7 linked regions of the Homo sapiens genome follow. The protein of the gene in region 5 purifies or fractionates together with the protein of the main gene of each other region. This does not show direct contact. Each region holds a gene or a part of one and is shown on either strand. Other genes may lie near its edges. The genes, in order: MANEAL, SUSD2, GLB1L2, DNAJC16, ST8SIA3, HFE and SLC30A6.

Evidence for each region.
Region 1: the proteins of ST8SIA3 (region 5) and MANEAL purify together in Homo sapiens (affinity purification with mass spectrometry; one large-scale study listed by BioGRID and IntAct). This does not show direct contact.
Region 2: the proteins of ST8SIA3 (region 5) and SUSD2 purify together in Homo sapiens (affinity purification with mass spectrometry; one large-scale study listed by BioGRID and IntAct). This does not show direct contact.
Region 3: the proteins of ST8SIA3 (region 5) and GLB1L2 purify together in Homo sapiens (affinity purification with mass spectrometry; one large-scale study listed by BioGRID and IntAct). This does not show direct contact.
Region 4: the proteins of ST8SIA3 (region 5) and DNAJC16 purify together in Homo sapiens (affinity purification with mass spectrometry; one large-scale study listed by BioGRID and IntAct). This does not show direct contact.
Region 6: the proteins of ST8SIA3 (region 5) and HFE purify together in Homo sapiens (affinity purification with mass spectrometry; one large-scale study listed by BioGRID and IntAct). This does not show direct contact.
Region 7: the proteins of ST8SIA3 (region 5) and SLC30A6 purify together in Homo sapiens (affinity purification with mass spectrometry; one large-scale study listed by BioGRID and IntAct). This does not show direct contact.

The regions. Positions count from the first base shown.
Region 1 is NC_000001.11:37,796,847-37,799,239, reverse strand, and holds part of MANEAL (glycoprotein endo-alpha-1,2-mannosidase-like protein), read right to left. Parts: intron 1-2,393.
Region 2 is NC_000022.11:24,184,487-24,187,046, reverse strand, and holds part of SUSD2 (sushi domain-containing protein 2 precursor), read right to left. Parts: intron 2,282-2,560; coding exon 2,107-2,281; intron 1,954-2,106; coding exon 1,752-1,953; intron 1,562-1,751; coding exon 1,476-1,561; intron 1,387-1,475; coding exon 1,118-1,386; intron 1,032-1,117; coding exon 888-1,031; intron 791-887; coding exon 632-790; intron 1-631. UniProt on the Homo sapiens protein: May be a cytokine receptor for GPR15LG. May be a tumor suppressor; together with GPR15LG has a growth inhibitory effect on colon cancer cells which includes G1 cell cycle arrest. May play a role in breast tumorigenesis.
Region 3 is NC_000011.10:134,345,488-134,348,987, reverse strand, and holds part of GLB1L2 (beta-galactosidase-1-like protein 2 isoform b precursor), read right to left. Parts: exon of another isoform or gene 3,140-3,500; intron 1,664-3,139; coding exon 1,555-1,663; intron 1-1,554.
Region 4 is NC_000001.11:15,561,348-15,564,847, forward strand, and holds part of DNAJC16 (dnaJ homolog subfamily C member 16 isoform 1 precursor), read left to right. Parts: intron 1-794; coding exon 795-978; intron 979-2,581; coding exon 2,582-2,764; intron 2,765-2,935; coding exon 2,936-3,012; intron 3,013-3,500. UniProt on the Homo sapiens protein: Plays an important role in regulating the size of autophagosomes during the formation process.
Region 5 is NC_000018.10:57,365,994-57,369,431, reverse strand, and holds the end of ST8SIA3 (alpha-N-acetylneuraminate alpha-2,8-sialyltransferase ST8SIA3), read right to left. Parts: 3' UTR 501-3,438; downstream 1-500. UniProt on the Homo sapiens protein: Catalyzes the transfer of sialic acid from a CMP-linked sialic acid donor onto a terminal alpha-2,3-, alpha-2,6-, or alpha-2,8-linked sialic acid of an acceptor, such as N-linked oligosaccharides of glycoproteins and glycolipids through alpha-2,8-linkages.
Region 6 is NC_000006.12:26,093,929-26,097,428, forward strand, and holds part of HFE (hereditary hemochromatosis protein isoform 1 precursor), read left to right. Parts: intron 1-257; coding exon 258-298; 3' UTR 299-475; coding exon of another isoform or gene 476-483; 3' UTR 484-3,500. UniProt on the Homo sapiens protein: Binds to transferrin receptor (TFR) and reduces its affinity for iron-loaded transferrin.
Region 7 is NC_000002.12:32,172,364-32,175,863, reverse strand, and holds part of SLC30A6 (zinc transporter 6), read right to left. Parts: intron 1,802-3,500; coding exon 1,717-1,801; intron 546-1,716; coding exon 503-545; intron 1-502. UniProt on the Homo sapiens protein: Has probably no intrinsic transporter activity but together with SLC30A5 forms a functional zinc ion:proton antiporter heterodimer, mediating zinc entry into the lumen of organelles along the secretory pathway.

The sequences.
Region 1 (2,393 bases), on a different chromosome or scaffold from region 5:
ACTCCATTCCTGCTCTTTTCCCAGCTATTACTCCCCATCTGGCCTTTCTATCCGGCTCTCATGTGTCATGCAAGCTTGTTCCATCTTATGGGACTTGCATCTGCCAGCCCTCTGCTTGGAATTTTCTCCCTGCCTCCGGATCTTTGCAGAGCTGACCCTTTTTCTTTTCTTTTTTCTTCTTATTATTACTACTTTTTTCTGAGATAGGGTCTTGCTCTGTTGCTCAGAGCTGGAGTGCGGTGGGCGATCTCAGCTCACTGCAACCTCTACCTCCTGGGGTTCAAGTGATTCACCTGCCTCAGCCTCTCAAGTAGCTGGAATTACAGGCACCCGCTACCATACCTGCCTAATTTTTGTATTTTTAGTAGAGATGGGGTTTCACCATGTTGGCCAGGCTGGTCTTGAACTCCTGACCTCAGTCAATCCACCCACCTCAGCCTCTCAAAGTGCTGGGATTACAGGTGTGAGCCACTGGGCCTGGGCTTTTTTTTCTTTTTTCTTTTTTTTATTCTTAAGTCTCACTGTATCGCCCAGGCTGGAGTACAGTGGTGCCATCGTAACTCACTGCAACCTCAAACTCCTGGGCTCAAGTGATCCACTCACCTCAGCCCCCCAAATAGCTGGGACAATAGGCATGCATCACCATGCCCAGCTAATGTTTAAAAAAAAATTTGTAGAGATAGAGTCTCCCCATGTTGCCCAAGCTGGTCTCAAACTCCTGGCCTCAAGTGATCCTCCCACCTCAGCCTCCCAAAGTGCTGGGATTACAGGTGTGAGCCACCACACCCAGCCCTGACTGCTCATTCAGGTGTTAGCTCACCTGTTGTCTCCTCAGACTCACCTGACCTGACTATCCATTCTTAAGTAGCATCGTGGGCACACTCTAGCACAAAATCCTGTACAGATCACTGTTTGATTTTTCCCATTTAATTACTGTCTGCTCCACAGTACCTGCAACATACACTAGAAAGTAAACATTATGAAATCAGAAATTTCGCTAGTCCTACCCATTACTGTACAACTGGGCTTAAGTCAGTGCCTGGACACATGTAGGCACTCAATACTCTCTTTTTTTTTGTTTGTTTTTTTAAGAGACAGAATCTTGCTCTGTTCTCAGCTGGAATGCAGTGGTGTAATTGTGGCTAACTGTAACCTCAAACTCCTGGGCTCAAGTGATCCTCCCACCTCTGCCTTCCAAGTAGCTAGGACTACTACAGGCATGCACTGCTATGCCCAGCTAATTTTTTTTTTCAGTAGAGATGGGGTCTTGCTATGTTGCCCAGGCTGATCTCAAACTCCTGGCCTCAAGCAATCAATCCTCCCACCTCTGCCTCCCAAAGCCCTGGGAGGCCGGGTGCAGTGGTTCACACCTGTAATCCCAACACTTTGGGAGGTCGAAGTGGGCAGAGCATCTGAAGTCAGGAGTTCAAGACCAGCCTGGCCAACATGGTGAAATCCCAGGCTGGAGTACAGTGGTGCCATCATAGTTCACTGTAACCTCAAACTTCTGAGCTCAAGTGATCCACTCACCTTAGCCCCCCAAGTAGCTGGGACCATAGCTGTGCATCACCACGCCCAGCTAAAGATACAAAAATACAAAAGTTAGCTGGGTGTGGTGGTGGGCACCTGTAATCCCAGCTACTCAGGAGGCTGAGGCAGGAGAATCGCTTGAACCCAGGAGGCAGAGGTTGCAGTGAGCCAAGATTGTGCCACTGCACACCAGCCTGGGCAACAGAGTGAGACTCTGTCTCAAAAAAAGAAAAAAAAAAAAAAAAGCACTGGCATTACAGGCATGAGCCATTGCACGCAGCCTCATTCAATATTTATTTATTTATTTTTGAGATGGAATCTCGCTCTGTCACCCAGGCTGGAGTGCAGCGGTGCAATCTCGGCTCACTGCAACCTCCGCCTCCCAGATTCAAGCGATTTTCCTGCCTCAGCCTCCTGAATAGCTGGGATTACAGGTGTGCGCCACCACGCCTGGCTAATTTTTTTATTTTTAGTAGAGACGGGGTTTCACCACGTTAGTCAGGCTGGTCTCGAACTCCTGACCTCAAGTGATCCGCCTGCCTCGACCTCCCAAAGTGCTGGGATTACACCATGCCTGGCCTTCATTCAATACTTTCTGAATGAATAAATGAGGTGCCTACATTGTAGAAGCTACTTTCACATATATTAATTCGTGTGATTCTCACAAGACTCAAAGGTTAAGAGGCTTGCCTCATCACAGATTAGAAGCCACAGGACAGGAATTGAAACCCAGGCTGCCTGACTTTAGGCCCAGTACTCTCTTACTATAAAACAGCTGCTGGGAAACACAGGCATTATGCCCTGTGTCTCTTGACCTGCCCCTCCAAACCTTCTATCCCTACCTCCATTTTGATCCCCACCAA
Region 2 (2,560 bases), on a different chromosome or scaffold from region 5:
CCTCCGCCACCCCTGCCATGCTTGCGGTGGAACTCCCAGCGGCACCTGAGGTGCAGCCCCTGCAGTGAATCCCCCATGTTGAGATGCACGTGTGGGTCCCTCTGGCCTTGGCTGCAGCAGCCACACCTGCCTGGGCACGTCCCGAGGGTCCCTGAACCCTCAGTGCTGACAGGCCCCTCCCAGGTCCTCACCCATCCCAACCAGGAATCCTTTCATTGACTCAGTTCCCTGAGGCAAGGGGTTCAGATGTGGAGCTACCACTTGCCAGGGGCATCCTTAACCGTGCAGGGCTGGAGACCTTGCAGTGGCTTTTGAGGACTGAGGGAGTGACAGGAGCACAGGAGTGGCTCTGTGCAGGCCAGCGGTGAACGTTACCAGGGTGAGTTCCCCTCCAGAAGGCTCCCGGGATCCTCCGTAGGGAGGACATGTCCCACCGTCACGGCCTCTCGGCTTTTGACCAGGTGGGTACGACGGGGGCACCTCGGTGGGTGTGAAGGCCTGAGGTCGGACCACCCAGGCCTCTAGCCAGGACTGGGAGAGGCATGAAGGCCCAGGGCTTCCCCTCAGTCTCCCTGCAGGAATGGGGAGGAGGTGAGGGCAGCCCGCAGCCTCGCGTGGCTGGACTGCTCACCTTTCAGGTCCATCCAGCTCTGCTCGGTGAAGCTCAGCACCTCCTGGTTCAGCAGCACCTCCAGACCTCCGGTCCTGTTGGCCAGCCTGACTTCCACCACATCTGAGTTGCCCTCCTGGACGGCCACTGCGGTCAGCCCAGTGCCACGGGTCTCCGTGCCTGCGGTGGTGGGAGCAGAACGGGAGCCACTTGGCTCCAGCCTCCCACCTTGGTTCTACCCCATGCCAACCAGAGCAGCCCCTAGCCCTGGCCTCACCGTTGGACATCGTCCCGGGCTGGGCCCGCGCCTGCACCCTCAGGTCGGTCAGCGCTGCCTCCAGCAGCACGTACTCTCCGCGCCCATTGAATGTGAAGTTGGTGCCGTCGAAGGTCACAAAGTGTGGGTCTCCGAAGGCGGAGGCTAGGGTGAGAGTGGAGGGTCACGTGGGGGTGCACCCCAGCCCAGCCCGATCTTTCCCAGGGTCTGGGGCACGGGATGGCACCCACCCAGTCTTGGGGGCCGGTAGTTGCGGCAGTCATTGGAGGGCCGCCGTTGCATGTAGCGGGGGCAGTCGGGTGCCCAGAGGCAGCAGTAATAGAAGCTGAGGACATCGTAGAGCCAGTGGGACATGCTGGGCACTCGGGGTGGCGTGCGGAACGGGGGTGCGCCCCAGTCATGGCCGCGGTCGGGAGTGCTGCCGCCGCTGGAGTCAGCTGTCAGGAGCTGCGTCCCGTCCGCTGTGTAGCAGCACTGCTGACCTGAGCCGTACCGGAGGCTGCAGGAGCCAGTGAGTCAGGGCCAGGCCACTGTTGGGAGCCCACCCCTGACCCCAATCCCCATACCGGCCCCAGCCTGGGGGCTCACCTGGCCTGCACAGAACGCACACAGTGCACGGCCCCGGGGTGGTAGGTGCACACGCTGCCCTGCTCCATGTCACAGCCGTAGTCCGTCTGCAGAGCAGCAGGTGGCTGTCACCCAGTGGCCTCGGGTTCTGTCATCCCCTCCCTGAGGCCAACCCTGCAGGGGTCCTGAGACCCCAGCCCCACCCTCCAGGACACCTCTGTCTGCCTCCCCTGGTGCTGTCCTCAGTGGGGAGGCTAACCCCTCATCCCCTCTCCTGGGCCCTGATGGGAGGCTCACGAAGAAGCGGCCGGAGTCAGCCCGGGCCTGGGTCAGGGTGCAGGGGCAGTCCGGCAGCTCCTCCAGGAAGTTGGGCAGCTGATCCTCCAGCTCCTCCCAGGCCTGGCACTGAGTTCGTGCCCAGGCCACAGGGTCCTCTCGGAAGTCATCGCTCAGGTGCCAGGCCAGTGCGTGGTCGTTGGTCCAGAGCGCCTGCACGTCCCTGTGGAGGTGATGATGCTGGAGCTGGGCCAGCCCACACCACCCCATGGTCGCCCCACTCTCCCCACCCCCAGCCTGGGCTGCCCAGGCAAGCATGATGGGCCTCGGGCGGCGAGGCCCTCCAGCCATCACCTGCACATCCATGCCTTCTTACTTCTGCCCTGCGTAATTTTTGCTGTCGATGATCCGAAGTGCACCCACTCGCCATCTCTGGTAGCTGGGAGGAGCAGGTTTTGGGGTGAAAGTGAAAGAGCCGGAGTTGGGGATGTGTGTGGCCAGGGGGTACAGGTACGACCACTTTGCAGTCCACTCCTGTGAGTAGGGCATTCCTGAGGGAGAGGATGCCTGGTTAGCCCTGGGGTTCCTTCGAGGCCTGGCCCCAGGCCTTGCCACCTACAGCAGCCTGACAGATGGGTGGATGGACCGCCAGGCGGTCCCCTTAGGAGGGGCTGTTCTAGCAGGGACCCCGGCTTGGGTGACCATCACCTCCTGCCACACTCCAGGATCCCTGTCCCTGCTGGAAGCTGGGCCCAGGGCCATGCCAGCCGTGCAGGGGTTCCTCATGAGCCTCCTCCCCTGGAGCCAGGCCCCATGAGCTGCCCCCTCCC
Region 3 (3,500 bases), on a different chromosome or scaffold from region 5:
CGGTATTCAGAGGTGGGACTTTTGGGTGGTGATTAGTTATGAGCATAGAGTCCTTGCCAACAGGGCTAGTGCTCTTATAAGAGGGACCTCAGGGAGCTCTCTGACGCTCTCTGCCATGTAAGGTTGCATCAAGAAGATGGCCGTATATGCCCTGGAAGGGGGCCCTTCCAGACACCGAATCTGCCAGTGCTTTGTTCTTGGACTTCCCACTCTCCAAAACTGGGAGAAATGAATTTCTTTGTCTGTAAGCCACTCAGTCTAGGTGTTTGGTTGTGGCAGCCTGAACTAAGGCTGTGGAGATGAGCACACAACAGTGTGGGTGGACTCAATGCCGCTGAGCTGTACATTTCAAAATGGTTAAAATGGCAAAGTTTATGTTATGTATACTATCCCATAGTCACAAAAATTAAATAACTATGTGATTATTTAAATATGTTAAATAATAATAATTATGTTATCGTTTATTTCAAAAAGATGCATTGGTGACCCGCTGCACGTCTGCAAGTGCCTCTGAGCCTGCTCCCAGGACGGCCATCCTGCTGCCCACCCGACTCCTACAACCTGCTGATCCCCAGCTTCCCAGCAAGATCTAGGCTAATGACTTCCTAGTTCCTTGCTTCTGTCATGGTTAAGGCTGCCGGATTTAGTAAACAAAAATACCAGACATAAAGTTAAATTTGAATTCACAACAAATAATTTTTTAGTGTAAGTATGACCCATGCAATATTTGGAATATATTTACACTAAAAAATTATTCCTTGCTTATCTGAAACTCAAATATAACTGAGCATCCTGTGTTTCATCTGGCAGTTCCCTTTGATTTATGTGTGTGGTGAGTATTCCATACCACTGACTTGAACTAATTTTTTATTGATGTACTAATTTCTCAATGCCGTTCTTTCTGGTTTTACACAGCAACTGGGTTGATTTTTCCCATTCCTGCTTTCCAAAGCTTCCAATTATTATATAAAATATTAAGGTACTTCCTCCCCCAAAACGTACTTTAACGCATGTTTTGAATAGTAAGTGTGTACCATGCAGCACCTTTTTGGTAGCAGAGGGAAGTATCTCGTAAAGTCAGCGAAAGGAATTTTATAATTTATAAAAAGTCCTGCAGTCTTATAGGCAAAGGTTAATCCACATGTGCTCCACCCTGTGCAAAACTGAGCCGCAGTGCTACTGGGACACTGGTAGATAGATGGGTGTTCCCGGCTATCACCTCATCCCTGTCTCTGTGGAACCATGGAGATGCCAGTGGATGCGTGTTCCCGGCTATCACAGCATCCCTGTCTCTCCAGTGCTGTATGTGGCAATGTGAGCCCTTACATCTGTCTGTCCTTTCAGTAACGCACCCAAGTGAGACAACACTGAAATGCACAGATCTTTCCAAAGACAACTCTTGCAAGCCCCTCAGTTACGAGTCTCGGACGGTGAGGAAGAGCCTGCTCGTGTGTTCAAAACACTGGAGGACCCTTGGTCTGAGAACTAACCAAGGATGATCCACGACCTAGAGGAAGACAGACCAAGATCAAAGAAGACCCCATTTGCTTGTACCTGGAGTGGCACCACCCTGGACATCAGGTGGTCAAAATAAAGGTCCACTGCTTCGGTGAAGCCCTTGTAAGTTGTCCTCAGCCTCATGCCAGGGTCTTGGAGTAGCCAGCTTGAAGTGTAAACGGGGGAAAGGAAGGATGTTAGTGTCACAGTGGGTTTGCTGTGAGCAGGCTGTTGATGCGTGAGAAGGGAGAGGCCCCCCAGTGCTCCAGAATGACCTGTGCCCTCCTCCACCCCACTGAGCCCAGAAGTGGGGAGACAATGCAAACCGATTCTGGGGCGAGCACCCACCCGCACTCCTGCAGCTTCCCTCCCCAAGGACACAGCCTGGTGGAAGTTCATTTCCAGCTCCACAGCTACAGGGCCTGGCTGCCAGCAGTGAGAAAAGCTTTTCACAGGACTCCAGGCCTAGTTTTCAACAACTTGCTCTGTGATCCCATTTCAAAAAGTGAAGTCAAAAGGGTTAGGAATCACTGAGGCTGTGGAAGGAGGAGACACAACCTTCTAGCGTCACCCCAAAAAACAAGCCTGACAGAGACTGCGAGGGGCTGAGCAGGAGGCAGTCCCCATCCTTGCCAACGTGGCTAACGCCTTGGCATCAGTGGCGCACAGCCCAGAGCAGCAGGTGAGCAAGAGTTGAATTCTCCCTCCACCCTGTTGCTATGATCCCAAACTCCCCAGAGGAACACAGCAGCGTGGATTGGTTCCAAAGCTGGAGTCAGGGCTCTTCCTTCTCACTTCAGGTTCTGAGAAGACACATATTTTCTAACAAAAGGCTCTGAGGCTCCTCTTGCCCTGGTCTGGAAGTCCTAAACAGGGTCAGGAAATTATCCCATTTCTGTGGGTCAAACAAGGGGTGAGGAGAGAGCAGTTTCCTCCAGACCGACACCCCCACATTCTAACCCCACCTGACAGGTTAGCCTTCTCACTCACGCCCGGACGCCCCCTCCGCAGGTGTGCCCACATGCCCCTCTCATGCATGGCCAGGTGCCACATGGGCGGGGTGAGAAGGGGGAGTCTGAGTGCCACAGCTCCCCACTGCTTCTAAGTTAAGACTGTTAAACCCTTCGTCCTCCTGTGCCCGGCCCCGGCTGAGCCGAGGAAATCGCTGACGGTGGCACACAGCTTTCTAATCCACAGGGATGGGAGAGGCTGCCCTGGCTGTGTTCGTGACTAGGGTGAGCCTACCAGGCTGGATGGATCAGTGCCTGAGAAGTGGCCCTGGGTAGTGGAGACAGAAGCTATGCCCCCGAGGGAAGGGCGGGTCATGCTGGAAACCAGGAGGAAAAGAAGCCCAGGGCTCCCCAGGGACCAGGGGAGGGGAGACGGCTTGGGGACAAGGATCAGCCTCTTCCCTGAGGCAGTCTGGGTCTAACCACCTGGTACACTGGGAGGCTGAGAAAGGTTACACCAGTTAACAAGAAAATCTTAAAGGCCACAATGTTGAGGATGAGGAATGAATGAAGTCCCAGCTGATTCCTGTCCAGATTTCCACTCCAACCACAGAACACCAAACTCAGCCAAGACTAGCACTGGGAAGATGACACACGTGGGCCGAGATAGGAAGACAAAACCATAACAAGAATTTGTTTCTCTTATACTTTATCAAAATACTTGGACTTTTCAAAATATGCTTGGTAACATTCCTAAGAAAGAGATAGGGAAGGCCGGGCGCGGTGGCTCATGCCTGTAATCCCAGCACTTTGGGAGGCCGAGGTGGGCAGATCACAAGGTCAGGAGTTCCAGACCAGCCTAGCCAACATGGTGAAACCCTGTCTTTACTAAAAATACAAAAATTAGCTGCGCGTGGTGGCACACACCTGTAACCCTAGCTACTCGGGAGGCTGAGGCAGGAGAATCGCTTGAACCCGGGAGGCGGAGGTTGCAGTAAGCCAAGATCACACCACTGCACTCCAGCCTGAGTGCCAGAGCAAGACTCTGTCTCA
Region 4 (3,500 bases), on a different chromosome or scaffold from region 5:
CCAGCCCTCCCTATACTGGAAGAACTAGGACAAATAGTTTCTAAAAGGCCCTGCCGGCCAGGAACAGTGGCTCACGCCTATAATCCCAGCACTTTGGGGGGCTGAGGCAGGCGGATCACTTGAGGTCAGGAGTTTGAGACCAGCCTGGCCAACATAGTGAAAACCCGTCTCTACTAAAAATACAAAAACTAGTTGGGTGAGGTGGTGCACGCCTATAATCCCAGCTACTTGGGAGGCTGAGGCAGGAGAATGGTTTGAACTCAGGAGGCGGAGTTACAGTGAGCCGAGATCACACCACTACACTCTCCAGCCTGGGCGACAGAGCAAGACTCCATCTCAAAAAATAAAATGAAAGGCCCTGCTGCATCAGAGATTCAGTGACCAACCCCTTAAATTCCTGGCAGGCACGATGGCTCATGCCAGTAATCCCAACACTTTGGGAGCCTGAGGTAGGAGGATTGTCTGAGGCCAGGAGTTCAAGACCAGCCTGGGCAATATAAACAAAACTATATATATATAGTTTTCATATATATAAAATTTCATATATATAAAATTTTAAAATTCGTAAATGTGGTAAAGAAGTTTGGTTTGGGAAAAACATCACAGATTGGGAAGAGAAACAGTTTGTTAATGACTTGGAAATCCTCCCTTAGTTGAAATGTCAGCTTTCACTGGGCACAGTGTATTCACTTCCATAAGATGAGCTCCTCGTCTTCTTCACCTTCACTTGCCATTATAGGTGCTGGCCCTGCCATCAGGGATTGGTTATAAAGTTTTGTCTTTTTGTTGTGCAGGTACTGTGTGGTTTTATTGACTGCTGAGACTACCAAGTTGAGCAAACCCTTTGAGGCTTTCCTGTCCTTTGCCCTGGCAAACACTCAAGACACAGTGAGATTTGTGCATGTCTACAGCAATCGGCAGCAGGAGTTTGCCGACACCTTACTACCAGACAGTGAGGCGTTTCAAGGGAAATCAGCGGTAAGCCACAGAGTCTCTCCTCATCCCAGGCTCTTCATAACCATGTGGCACTTGATTCTGTTTCCTTCTTCCTTGAGAGTGTTGAATACAGATTCTAGGAAATCTGAAACTCTGAAGCCTATTTTCAAAGTCTACTCTTTTGTTTTTCCTTTTTCTTGATTTTTTTTTTTTTCTTTTGAGACAGGGTCTCACTCTGTCTCCCAGGCTGGGAGTGCAGTGACATGATCTCAGCTCATTACAGCCTCGACCTCCCAGGCTCAAGTGATCCTCCCACCTCAGCCTCCCACATAGCTGGGACCACAGGCACACACAACCACGCCTGGCTAATTTTTTGTATTTTTTTGTAGAGATAGGGTTTCGACATGTTGCCCAGGTTGGTCTCAAACTCCCGAGCTCAGGCAATCCTCCCGCCTCCCAAAGTGCTGGGATTACAGGCATGAGCCACTGCTCCTGGCCTAAAGCCTACTCTTAAAACAGTTTTTGACCTGGTCTTTTTACATTCTGGATGTCAGCCTCAGGCCCCCACAGAAACCATGTTTTCTATCAGTGAACGGTAAAGGTCATCAGTGCTTTTCACCAGTTTTTTACTAAGGCAAGTCTGGTCTTGCAGCATCCTAGATCCTAGATTTTACAAATCCTTAGGCCACTGGTAATGTGCTCTGGAAATTTCTGCCCCCCTCTGCCTCTTTAACTTCATCCTGGTTGATCTCTCCTGCCTTTCTCCTGCATTGTCATCACTTCCTACAGAAACAAGAAATTCTCCTCTGACTTTTCATCATTTTCGCAATCATGGAAAATCTCTCTAAAAAACAAAGGTTTCCATTAATATTAAGTCAAGGTTATAGAGCAAAGTCTATTGAGAAAAAAGAGCTTTAACTTTTAACAAAAGCTTAGGAAAGTCACCATAAAAGTTATTTCTTAGGCCGAACGCGGTGGCTCACACCTATAATCCCAGCACTTTGGGAGGCCGAGGCGGGTGGATCACTTGAGGCTAGGAGTTTGAGACCAGCCTAATCAACATGGTGAAACCTCATCTCTACTAAAAATACAAAAATTAGCTGGTGTGGTGCACACCTGTCTGTAGTCCCAACTACTCAGCAGGCTGAGGCACGAGAATTGCTTGAACCTGGGAGGCAGAGGTTGCAGTGAGCCAAGATCGCACCATTGCACTCCAGCCTGGGAGACAAGGGCGAAACTCTGTCTCAAAAAACAAACAACTGGGCCAAGTGTGGTGGCTCACAGCTGTAATCCCAGCACTTTGGGAGGCCAAGGCAGGCAGATCACGAGGTCAGGAGATCGAGACCATCCTGGCTAGCATGGTGAAACCCCATCTCTACTAAAAAAAAAAAAAAAAAAAAAAAAAAATACCAAAAATTAGCCAGGCATGGTGGCAGGTGCCTCTAGTCCCAGCCACTTGGGAAGGCTGAGCCAGGAGAATGGCGTGAACCCGGGAGGCGGAGCTTGCAGTGAGCCAAGATCACGCCACTGCACTCCAGCCTGGGCGACAAAGCAAGACTCCGTCAAAAAAAAAAAAAAAAGCAAACAACTGTAACTTAACCATGCTTTTGAAACTTCTGATGTTTTTTCTCTACTTTTCTTCCAGGTGTCTATTTTAGAAAGGCGCAACACAGCAGGAAGGGTGGTGTATAAAACCCTGGAAGACCCTTGGATTGGGAGTGAGAGTGACAAATTTATCCTCTTGGGCTATCTCGACCAGCTGCGTAAAGATCCAGCTCTTCTGTCCTCTGAAGCAGTGCTTCCTGACCTGACCGATGAACTTGCCCCTGTGAGCATCGGGGCTGGGAAGGGTGGGACACCAGGAGGGCTTGTGAGTACACAGTGCTGGTGGCGGATTTCTGCTCAGAGCAGAGGTCCAGCAGCAGCACTGTGTTGCAGGGTAGAGGGACTCTCCCTTCCGGCTTTAGTCCTGACCATCATCCATTTTCTCTCTACATAGGTTTTTCTCCTTCGATGGTTCTACTCTGCTTCTGACTACATCTCAGACTGCTGGGATAGCATTTTTCACAACAACTGGTAGGGATATTGCCAGGCTGAATTTCTTTTTCTCTGTTAATACTGATATCACTGTTTTTCTTTTGAAAAGAGTTCATCATTATTAAATTTCAAGGTACACTTGATGGGGCAAGTGGAAGAACGTTTACACATTTTCTATTCCCCTTTTTCTTTCTTTCAGTAACTTCCCTTTTTTTTATTTTTTACTTTTTTTTTTTTTGAGACAAAGTCTTGCTCTTGTCCCCCAGGCTCAATCTGGGGATCACTGCAACCTCCGCCTCCCAGGTTCAAGCAATTCTCCTGCCTCAGCCTCCTGAGTAGCTGGGATTACAGGCACCTGTCACCATGCCTGGCTAATTTTTGTATTTTTAGTAGAGATAGGGTTTCACCATGTTGGTCAGGCTGGTCTCAAACTCCTGACCTCAGGTGATCCACCCGCCTCGGCCTCCCAAAGTGCTGGGCTTACAGGTGTGAACCACTGCTCCCGGACATTTTTTATTTTTTATTTT
Region 5 (3,438 bases):
GGGGAAGGTTCTATGAGGAGGTGATCTAGAGAGAGCCTGGGATGGGGTGAAAGGTACAGAGGAAGGAGAACTGGACAGGGAGTCAGGCTGAGTTCTCATTTTGACTTGTCACTTAACTGCACAGCAGGGACAACTCCCTCAGCATCTCTCCCTCACCTGATTATTCATTAAATAAAATGATGTATGTAATAGTAACTTTCAAGAGTAATGTATTATTATTAATAATGTTAAGGCCTGTCACATGATTAGCATTTAAAGGACCAATGGAAAAGTTATGTGTAGGGACTTTGAGTATTTCCTGCTTGTTCATGGCTGTAGACAGCCAAGCTCACCCTTTCTGGGGTCCTACAAATTTCCAACGACCTCAAAACACTGAGAATATAAAACAGGAGGAAGCATTCAATCTCTTCACTGGATGAAATGTGAGTATGTGTTAGCACATGTATGTGTGTGTATGTGTGTGTGGGGGCTCTCCCGAATGTGACAGACAACCAGCAGTGTTTCCCAAAGCAAAACGAAATGGTTTATTTAAAAACAACGCATTCAGTACTGTGTTTGGAACACAAGGCAATGAGGCAGGCACATTCACACTTAACAAGTACATTTGAGGAGCTGTCGAAGCAAATGGTTGCATTTTCTTCACAAACTACAGTCACAATATACACGCAATTGCCTCTGTCCTTGTTCACCAAGAAAGCAGAAGATATTTACAAGTTCCTCAGTCTAGCAGTGCTGGCTTCTCTTGGGTCTCTGTGGCCCTCACATTCTGGCAGCTTGTTTCCAAGGGCAGGCGAGGCTGCCTGTCACAAGGGAGGTCAGTCTGATTTGTTAAGGCCCTCGGCTTCTTCCAAAGAGCAAGAGAACTTCTGACAGAGTTGGGAAAGAGGGAAGTTTTCAATACCAGTATCTCAGCATAAAATGGCACTTTCCAAAACAAATGCATCAAGTGTTGAGTGACGGGGTGAGCGGGCAGGGAATCACGGTATTAACAATATAAGAAGCATTTATTTTCCCTGACACATACTTCTTGCTCATTTATTTAATAACTTACATTCGCTATTCTTCTACTTTTTGACCTTTTGGTTTCATCATTACTCTTAAAGAGCTTTGCTCCTCCTTCTATACTGATACACTATTCTTTAAAATGCTGAAATGCAATGGTGAAATCAAAGTATGTTAAGCGAGAGAAGATATCACAAACATTCTTTTGTCTTGACTTCTAATTAATGCTTTCACAATTAATTGTCAATGTCCATCTAACTAATGGAAGCAGCACAGTGTGGTGTAGCAGAATCAGTGGTTGGGAGACCCAGACTCTAATTCCAGTTAGCTAGCTGGGCAAATAAGTCACTCCAACTTTCTGAACCTCAGTTGTCTCATCTCCACATGGAGGATGTTGATCTGGAATCCTGACTTGAGATAACATCTAGATCTGTAAAGTTTTGCTATGGACTTAGGTGGTTGTCCCATGTGAGTAAATGATAGTGTATTGCGATGTTTCCATACATTTGTTTTGTGTCCTGGGAGAATTTCAGTGCTAACTAATGATGCTTGGTGACCGGATCTCAGCCTGTTACTCAACTCCTCCCAGGGCTCTTGGCTGTAAGCGCTCTTGTGCTTTTCTGCACAGTATGGGTTCAGATCTGGATCTTGAAATATGGCTAAAGAGCACTTCTAACATGGGGTACAGTTATTCTCCATATTAAAAAATGGTCTAGATTCCTTCAGAGGGAAACCTCCCTCTTCTTTTTGCAAGTACTTCAATGACTTTATTCCACTTATGCAGGTTGACCAAACCTCTTTCCCATTGTCTGCCAATTTTTCTTCCCTGCCAATTTTCTTCCCTAAGACTAAAAATGCTATGGGAGTGGCTGGTTCCTCAAGAATGGTTTTCTGGTGAATTTGTTCATAATAAAACAAGGCCTACCTGTCAAGCCCCTTGTGCTTGTAGCTGTGGACTTCTCTGTTTGGTGTCAGGAAAAGAGCCAGAGGGTGAAGGCATACTTGTGCTCAGGCTGCATGCAATGTATTGGGAATACAGACATCTGAACATGCACCTGACTCATTTAAAATAAAATGTAGCTTGCTCAATGTAGAGAAACAAGCTCATTTCAATGACCATTAGGAAGAAAGAAAATAGAGGTATAACCTGGCATTTTACACATAGTATAGAAAATGTCCAACTTGCGTTTCAAGCATTTACAGTTTAGAAATGCCTTACAGAACCTGTAGGGTATTTTATTATAGCAACGGAAGTAGATTTGGTCCTTCATGATCTAATTTTGATTTAGTACATGCAGATAACAACTTACGGCCACTCACTGTGTCCTAGGAATTAGGCATATTTTTTCCCAGCATTGCCTCTCCAAAGATTTAATGAAGCCCACCTAAGAATGACTTCTACCAGAAAAATTTGCAATTTGCAAACAAAGCTTGTTCTGTGGATTACCAGATTACCTGATTTCTAAACACTCAGTTGGAAGTACACTCACAACTAGTGGTGAGAAAGGACAGTTGCTCTATTGCTCAATGCCAGGGGACTGCAGGGGCCAAATGTGTATTAGTAGATTTTTGTTTTTCATGGTCCAGCCTTACATCACATGACACCTTATCCTACAAAGTTTGCCCAGTCAGCAATGAAGTTGCCCAGAGATATTCCTACCAAGTGGTATTTCTTCACCGTTGGAAACTTTTCTAAGGGCAAATCAACTCCAGTTGAGTGCAACTTAAACTCTCAGCGTGATGTTTACTGGGTGTCCCCTGGTGGGGTAGAGACCTTGGAACCTCAGTGCCTTTCCAGATATGTAGAGCCAAGTGAGCTTACTGGGTGCCTTGTTCTTCCCCTGCTCCTTTGCAGGCACTGTTTTGTGGGTACCTGTATTTTTTTTATTGTGTCAGAAGGATGAGGGGCAAGTGGATAGGGAAAATGACAAAGTTGGGGAAACAAGTGATGAACTATAGGTATAGATTTTTTAAAAAAGATCAGCCAAACATGGTTTTAACTGGTAGTTAAATTAAAGAATGTTTTCCTGGAGGGTCACCCTTAGAAATTAGAAAAGCCACAGTTGGTAATCTCCCAAGATACTGGGGAGTCTGTTGAGAGGTTCCTAAGAGTCACGTGGAATATTTGAACACCTTGGGATCCAATAATATGCTCTTTTACTAAAAATCAGTAAAACTAACCAACATGGAAATGCTTCCCTTGGTGGAGGGGACATTTAAAAGTCCCTCCAAAGCCTCTGCTAGCCTCTCCTATTTGGTACTCACTGACTTAAAAATTGTTCAGGCAGTGCTATGCTGGAGCTGGCTCATGCTGTATTGGAGCCAACTTATACTGGCTCTTGAAAACATATTGTTGTGTTTTCAGCTGGTTGACATTAAGTTAGTAGCCTGAAATTGGCTGAGATGAGAGTATTTACACCATAGAAATTGGTAGGT
Region 6 (3,500 bases), on a different chromosome or scaffold from region 5:
TGTCATTGAAGGATCCTAAGAAAGGAGGACCACGATCTCCCTTATATGGTGAATGTGTTGTTAAGAAGTTAGATGAGAGGTGAGGAGACCAGTTAGAAAGCCAATAAGCATTTCCAGATGAGAGATAATGGTTCTTGAAATCCAATAGTGCCCAGGTCTAAATTGAGATGGGTGAATGAGGAAAATAAGGAAGAGAGAAGAGGCAAGATGGTGCCTAGGTTTGTGATGCCTCTTTCCTGGGTCTCTTGTCTCCACAGGAGGAGCCATGGGGCACTACGTCTTAGCTGAACGTGAGTGACACGCAGCCTGCAGACTCACTGTGGGAAGGAGACAAAACTAGAGACTCAAAGAGGGAGTGCATTTATGAGCTCTTCATGTTTCAGGAGAGAGTTGAACCTAAACATAGAAATTGCCTGACGAACTCCTTGATTTTAGCCTTCTCTGTTCATTTCCTCAAAAAGATTTCCCCATTTAGGTTTCTGAGTTCCTGCATGCCGGTGATCCCTAGCTGTGACCTCTCCCCTGGAACTGTCTCTCATGAACCTCAAGCTGCATCTAGAGGCTTCCTTCATTTCCTCCGTCACCTCAGAGACATACACCTATGTCATTTCATTTCCTATTTTTGGAAGAGGACTCCTTAAATTTGGGGGACTTACATGATTCATTTTAACATCTGAGAAAAGCTTTGAACCCTGGGACGTGGCTAGTCATAACCTTACCAGATTTTTACACATGTATCTATGCATTTTCTGGACCCGTTCAACTTTTCCTTTGAATCCTCTCTCTGTGTTACCCAGTAACTCATCTGTCACCAAGCCTTGGGGATTCTTCCATCTGATTGTGATGTGAGTTGCACAGCTATGAAGGCTGTACACTGCACGAATGGAAGAGGCACCTGTCCCAGAAAAAGCATCATGGCTATCTGTGGGTAGTATGATGGGTGTTTTTAGCAGGTAGGAGGCAAATATCTTGAAAGGGGTTGTGAAGAGGTGTTTTTTCTAATTGGCATGAAGGTGTCATACAGATTTGCAAAGTTTAATGGTGCCTTCATTTGGGATGCTACTCTAGTATTCCAGACCTGAAGAATCACAATAATTTTCTACCTGGTCTCTCCTTGTTCTGATAATGAAAATTATGATAAGGATGATAAAAGCACTTACTTCGTGTCCGACTCTTCTGAGCACCTACTTACATGCATTACTGCATGCACTTCTTACAATAATTCTATGAGATAGGTACTATTATCCCCATTTCTTTTTTAAATGAAGAAAGTGAAGTAGGCCGGGCACGGTGGCTCACGCCTGTAATCCCAGCACTTTGGGAGGCCAAAGCGGGTGGATCACGAGGTCAGGAGATCGAGACCATCCTGGCTAACATGGTGAAACCCCATCTCTAATAAAAATACAAAAAATTAGCTGGGCGTGGTGGCAGACGCCTGTAGTCCCAGCTACTCGGAAGGCTGAGGCAGGAGAATGGCATGAACCCAGGAGGCAGAGCTTGCAGTGAGCCGAGTTTGCGCCACTGCACTCCAGCCTAGGTGACAGAGTGAGACTCCATCTCAAAAAAATAAAAATAAAAATAAAAAAATGAAAAAAAAAAGAAAGTGAAGTATAGAGTATCTCATAGTTTGTCAGTGATAGAAACAGGTTTCAAACTCAGTCAATCTGACCGTTTGATACATCTCAGACACCACTACATTCAGTAGTTTAGATGCCTAGAATAAATAGAGAAGGAAGGAGATGGCTCTTCTCTTGTCTCATTGTGTTTCTTCTGAGTGAGCTTGAATCACATGAAGGGGAACAGCAGAAAACAACCAACTGATCCTCAGCTGTCATGTTTCCTTTAAAAGTCCCTGAAGGAAGGTCCTGGAATGTGACTCCCTTGCTCCTCTGTTGCTCTCTTTGGCATTCATTTCTTTGGACCCTACGCAAGGACTGTAATTGGTGGGGACAGCTAGTGGCCCTGCTGGGCTTCACACACGGTGTCCTCCCTAGGCCAGTGCCTCTGGAGTCAGAACTCTGGTGGTATTTCCCTCAATGAAGTGGAGTAAGCTCTCTCATTTTGAGATGGTATAATGGAAGCCACCAAGTGGCTTAGAGGATGCCCAGGTCCTTCCATGGAGCCACTGGGGTTCCGGTGCACATTAAAAAAAAAATCTAACCAGGACATTCAGGAATTGCTAGATTCTGGGAAATCAGTTCACCATGTTCAAAAGAGTCTTTTTTTTTTTTTTGAGACTCTATTGCCCAGGCTGGAGTGCAATGGCATGATCTCGGCTCACTGTAACCTCTGCCTCCCAGGTTCAAGCGATTCTCCTGTCTCAGCCTCCCAAGTAGCTGGGATTACAGGCGTGCACCACCATGCCCGGCTAATTTTTGTATTTTTAGTAGAGACAGGGTTTCACCATGTTGGCCAGGCTGGTCTCGAACTCTCCTGACCTCGTGATCCGCCTGCCTCGGCCTCCCAAAGTGCTGAGATTACAGGTGTGAGCCACCCTGCCCAGCCGTCAAAAGAGTCTTAATATATATATCCAGATGGCATGTGTTTACTTTATGTTACTACATGCACTTGGCTGCATAAATGTGGTACAAGCATTCTGTCTTGAAGGGCAGGTGCTTCAGGATACCATATACAGCTCAGAAGTTTCTTCTTTAGGCATTAAATTTTAGCAAAGATATCTCATCTCTTCTTTTAAACCATTTTCTTTTTTTGTGGTTAGAAAAGTTATGTAGAAAAAAGTAAATGTGATTTACGCTCATTGTAGAAAAGCTATAAAATGAATACAATTAAAGCTGTTATTTAATTAGCCAGTGAAAAACTATTAACAACTTGTCTATTACCTGTTAGTATTATTGTTGCATTAAAAATGCATATACTTTAATAAATGTATATTGTATTGTATACTGCATGATTTTATTGAAGTTCTTGTTCATCTTGTGTATATACTTAATCGCTTTGTCATTTTGGAGACATTTATTTTGCTTCTAATTTCTTTACATTTTGTCTTACGGAATATTTTCATTCAACTGTGGTAGCCGAATTAATCGTGTTTCTTCACTCTAGGGACATTGTCGTCTAAGTTGTAAGACATTGGTTATTTTACCAGCAAACCATTCTGAAAGCATATGACAAATTATTTCTCTCTTAATATCTTACTATACTGAAAGCAGACTGCTATAAGGCTTCACTTACTCTTCTACCTCATAAGGAATATGTTACAATTAATTTATTAGGTAAGCATTTGTTTTATATTGGTTTTATTTCACCTGGGCTGAGATTTCAAGAAACACCCCAGTCTTCACAGTAACACATTTCACTAACACATTTACTAAACATCAGCAACTGTGGCCTGTTAATTTTTTTAATAGAAATTTTAAGTCCTCATTTTCTTTCGGTGTTTTTTAAGCTTAATTTTTCTGGCTTTATTCATAAATTCTTAAGGTCAACTACATTTGAAAAATCAAAGACCTGCATTTTAAATTCTTATTCACCTCTGGCAA
Region 7 (3,500 bases), on a different chromosome or scaffold from region 5:
GTAGCTGGGACTACAGGCATACACCACCATGCCTGGCTATTTGTATTTTTAGTAGAGACGGGGTTTCACCATGTTGGCCAGGCTGGTCGTAAACTCCTGACCTCAAGTGATCCACCCGCCTCGGCCTCCCAAAGTGCTGGAATTGCAGGCATGAGCCGCCCCACCTGCTCTCTAATTACTGTTATGTCTCTAATTATTGTTGTTTGTGTGTTTGTTCTATGTTGATAATTTTACTTATTTAGTAGATTACTTTCCTTTAAGCAAAGAAAACTTCTTCATAATCTACTTTTTCTCTCCATAGATTTGCCTGTTTTGGACATTTCATATAAATGAAATCATAAAATATGTGGTCCTTTATGACTGTCTTCAAAGCATAATGTTTTTATTGTTTTCTTGTAAGATATCAGTAGTTGCTGTTTTTATTGCTGAATTGTATGGCTATACCACATTTCTACCAAGTTCCTTATTAGCTCCAAAACATTAAGATTTCCTAAAAACTTACCTAAAAAGATCAAAAATGGTCAGGTAAGTATAGGCAGTTAAAGCTGCAAAACAACAAAAAAATGATTAAAAGTATTACTGACCCCTCTAAAAAAATACAGCAAGTTACCAAAATTATTTCTACCAGGGGTATCCATTATCAAAAAAACTTTTGAGTCACGGGCCAACCTCATATATTGGCAGTTATCTAGTAAATCTGATAAATATATGTAGCCAAAGTTCGTTGGTAGAAAAGCTTACTTCCCAACCTGATTTCTCCATTAGGAAAAATGAAGCAATGAATGTTCAAAAGCCCTGTTACCATTTTTCTGCCTGCTTCTGTAATCTCAGCGCTATTTCAAATGTATTGTTTGAATAACTGAACAAAAGAACAATGCAATAAAAAACATAAAAAGATATAAGAAAAAAATTACAGAATTCCCTTTTTAAGGAAAAGCCAACAAACCTCAAAATCTAACTTACAAACTGCATAAATTAAAGTTTTAATCTATTATATTAAAAACAAATCTCCAGCCAGGCACGGTGGCTCACGCCTGTAATCCCAGCACTTTGGGAGGCTGAGGCGGGTGGATCATAAGGTCAGGAGATCGAGACCATCCTGGCCAACATGGTGAAACCCCATCTCTACCAAAACTACACAAATTAGCCAGGCGTGGTGGTACGTGCCTGTAATCCCAGCTACTTGGGAGGCTGAGGCAGGAGAATCGCTTGAACCAGGGAGGTGGAGGATGCAGTGGGCCAAGATCACACCACTGCACTACAGCCTGGCAACAGAGTGAGACTCCGTCTCAAAAAAAAAAAAAAAAAAAAAAAATCTCCAGATAGATTTAATGATTTTTCAAAAAATAACAGCTTATTTAAAATGAAAATGGCCAGGCATTGTGGCTTACGCCTGTAATCCCAGCACTCTGGGAGGCCAAGGTGGGTAGATCGTTTGAGCTCAGGATTTTGAGACCAGCCTGGGCAACATGGCGAAACCCCATTTCTGTTTTAAAATATATTTTAAAAGGAAAAAAACTTAAAAAAAAATTACAATCCTAACAAATGAACAAAAGTTTACAGTTTACAGGGAAGTTTTAAATATAGTCCCTTATTTAAATCATTTGAGTTATATACATTTCAGAATAATATATTCTATGTAAGATATACCTTTATTTCCAATGAGAAAAATAAAAGTAAAAATAACAACTCCATAAAAATACAAAGGTGACATACCTATACTATTAGTAGAACTGCACCACATAAGCAGGAAGCCAGTACATATCAAGTTTATTACACCAAAGAGCAGTATCTTCCAGGACTGTGAAAATAAAAATCACTCTTATGTGTACAGAAGTGATAAATTTCACGGGGTCTGTTCAAGTTGCTACAATTTATACTCTGATATTCAAAGGAATAAACATAACTTCCTTCAAAAAGTCTGTGTCACACTTTCTACATCTACCAAAATTGTCATCGGCTAAGTTATTACAGTATACAAGTTTAAAAGAATAGTTCCAGAAGGAGAGTTGTTCAAGAGAAAATAAATTCTGACATAGAAATTCTCAAATAGTTGAGAAAAATACACATACATATGCATATCGTTTTGTCTCTATAAGTACATATTATAGAGACAACGATGAAGCAAATGGGGCCAAATGTAAGCAACTGGTGAATCTGAATAAAGGGCATGATGATGTTCCTAAAAGTTAGTAATCTTGTCCAGGTGCAATGGCTCACTCCTGCAATCCCAGCACTTTGGGAGGCCAAGGTGGGTGGAGGTCAGGAGTTCAAGATCAGCCTAGCCAACATGGTGAAACCCCGTCTCTACTAAAACAAAAAATCAACCAGGTGTGGTGGCAGGCACCTCTATTTCCAGCTACTTGGGAGGCTGAGGCAGGAGAATCGCTTGAACCAGGGAAGCAGAGGTTGCAGTAAGATGAGATTGTGCCACTGCACTCCAGCCTGGGCGACAGAGCGAGACTCTGTCTCAAAAAAAAAAAAAAAAGTACTGACTTTGGCTGTTCAACATCAACCAAGTAAGGTGAGAAATAAGGAAAAATCTTCATTTTGGCAACACAGAGATTTTTGGTTACCTTGTAAAAGCTGTTTATGTGAATTAGTGGGCACAAGTACCTAACTGGTATGTGTTTAATAAAGATGAGGAGAAGAGAAGGTGAACACAATGTACTGATAATTCTTTCAAGTAGGTTTGCTACAAAAGGAAGCTGAGAAATGAAGCAGCCCTGAGAGTGGAACTTATAACATGTAATTACGATGCAAGAAAGAGGAGAATGATGCATGATGCAAGAAAAACAATGATGTAAGAAACAGAACAATTATAGGGACATCATCTTTCAGTAGGCAACAAGTGAAAGGATTGCCTTTATAGAGAAGAACTGAAAGCTTGTCCAGAGAAATAGGAGGGAAGGCGGAGTGATGGCTGATGTGCTAATGATAGGATGTAGAAGTTTTCTTCTGATTACTTCTTTTCCCTTGGTGAAACAGGAAGCAAGATCATCAGGTTAGGGTGAGGATGAAGAAGGTATTAGAAGCTTGAGGATAGAAACGAAAGAACATCGTATGAAACAGCCATCTAGGAAATTGGAAAATTGAATGAACAAAGGAAATATAAAATGAAAGAGCACTAATAGGCAGCACTTAATAGGCAGCACTAATGGTCTGTCTGATCATGAATTCAAAGTGAGACCAGTCGCATGGTTTTGTTTCTCTCAGGTTACATTCAGTTGCTTAGATGCAAGTAGAGTAGAAAGAAAGTGAACTTAATGAAGGTTAGGGATTTTCCAGGAATTAAGACAGAGGGAAGGGGAGCACAAAAGAGTTGAGAACATATAAAAGAAAATGATACTAGCTGGGAGTGGTGGTGTACCCCTGTAATCCCAGCTACTCAAGAGGCTGAGGAAGGAGGATCCCTTGAGCCCAGGAGTTCAAGACCAGCCTGGATAATTTAGCAAGATTCCATCTCAAAAAAAAAAGAACAAAAAGGAGGGAAATGATAA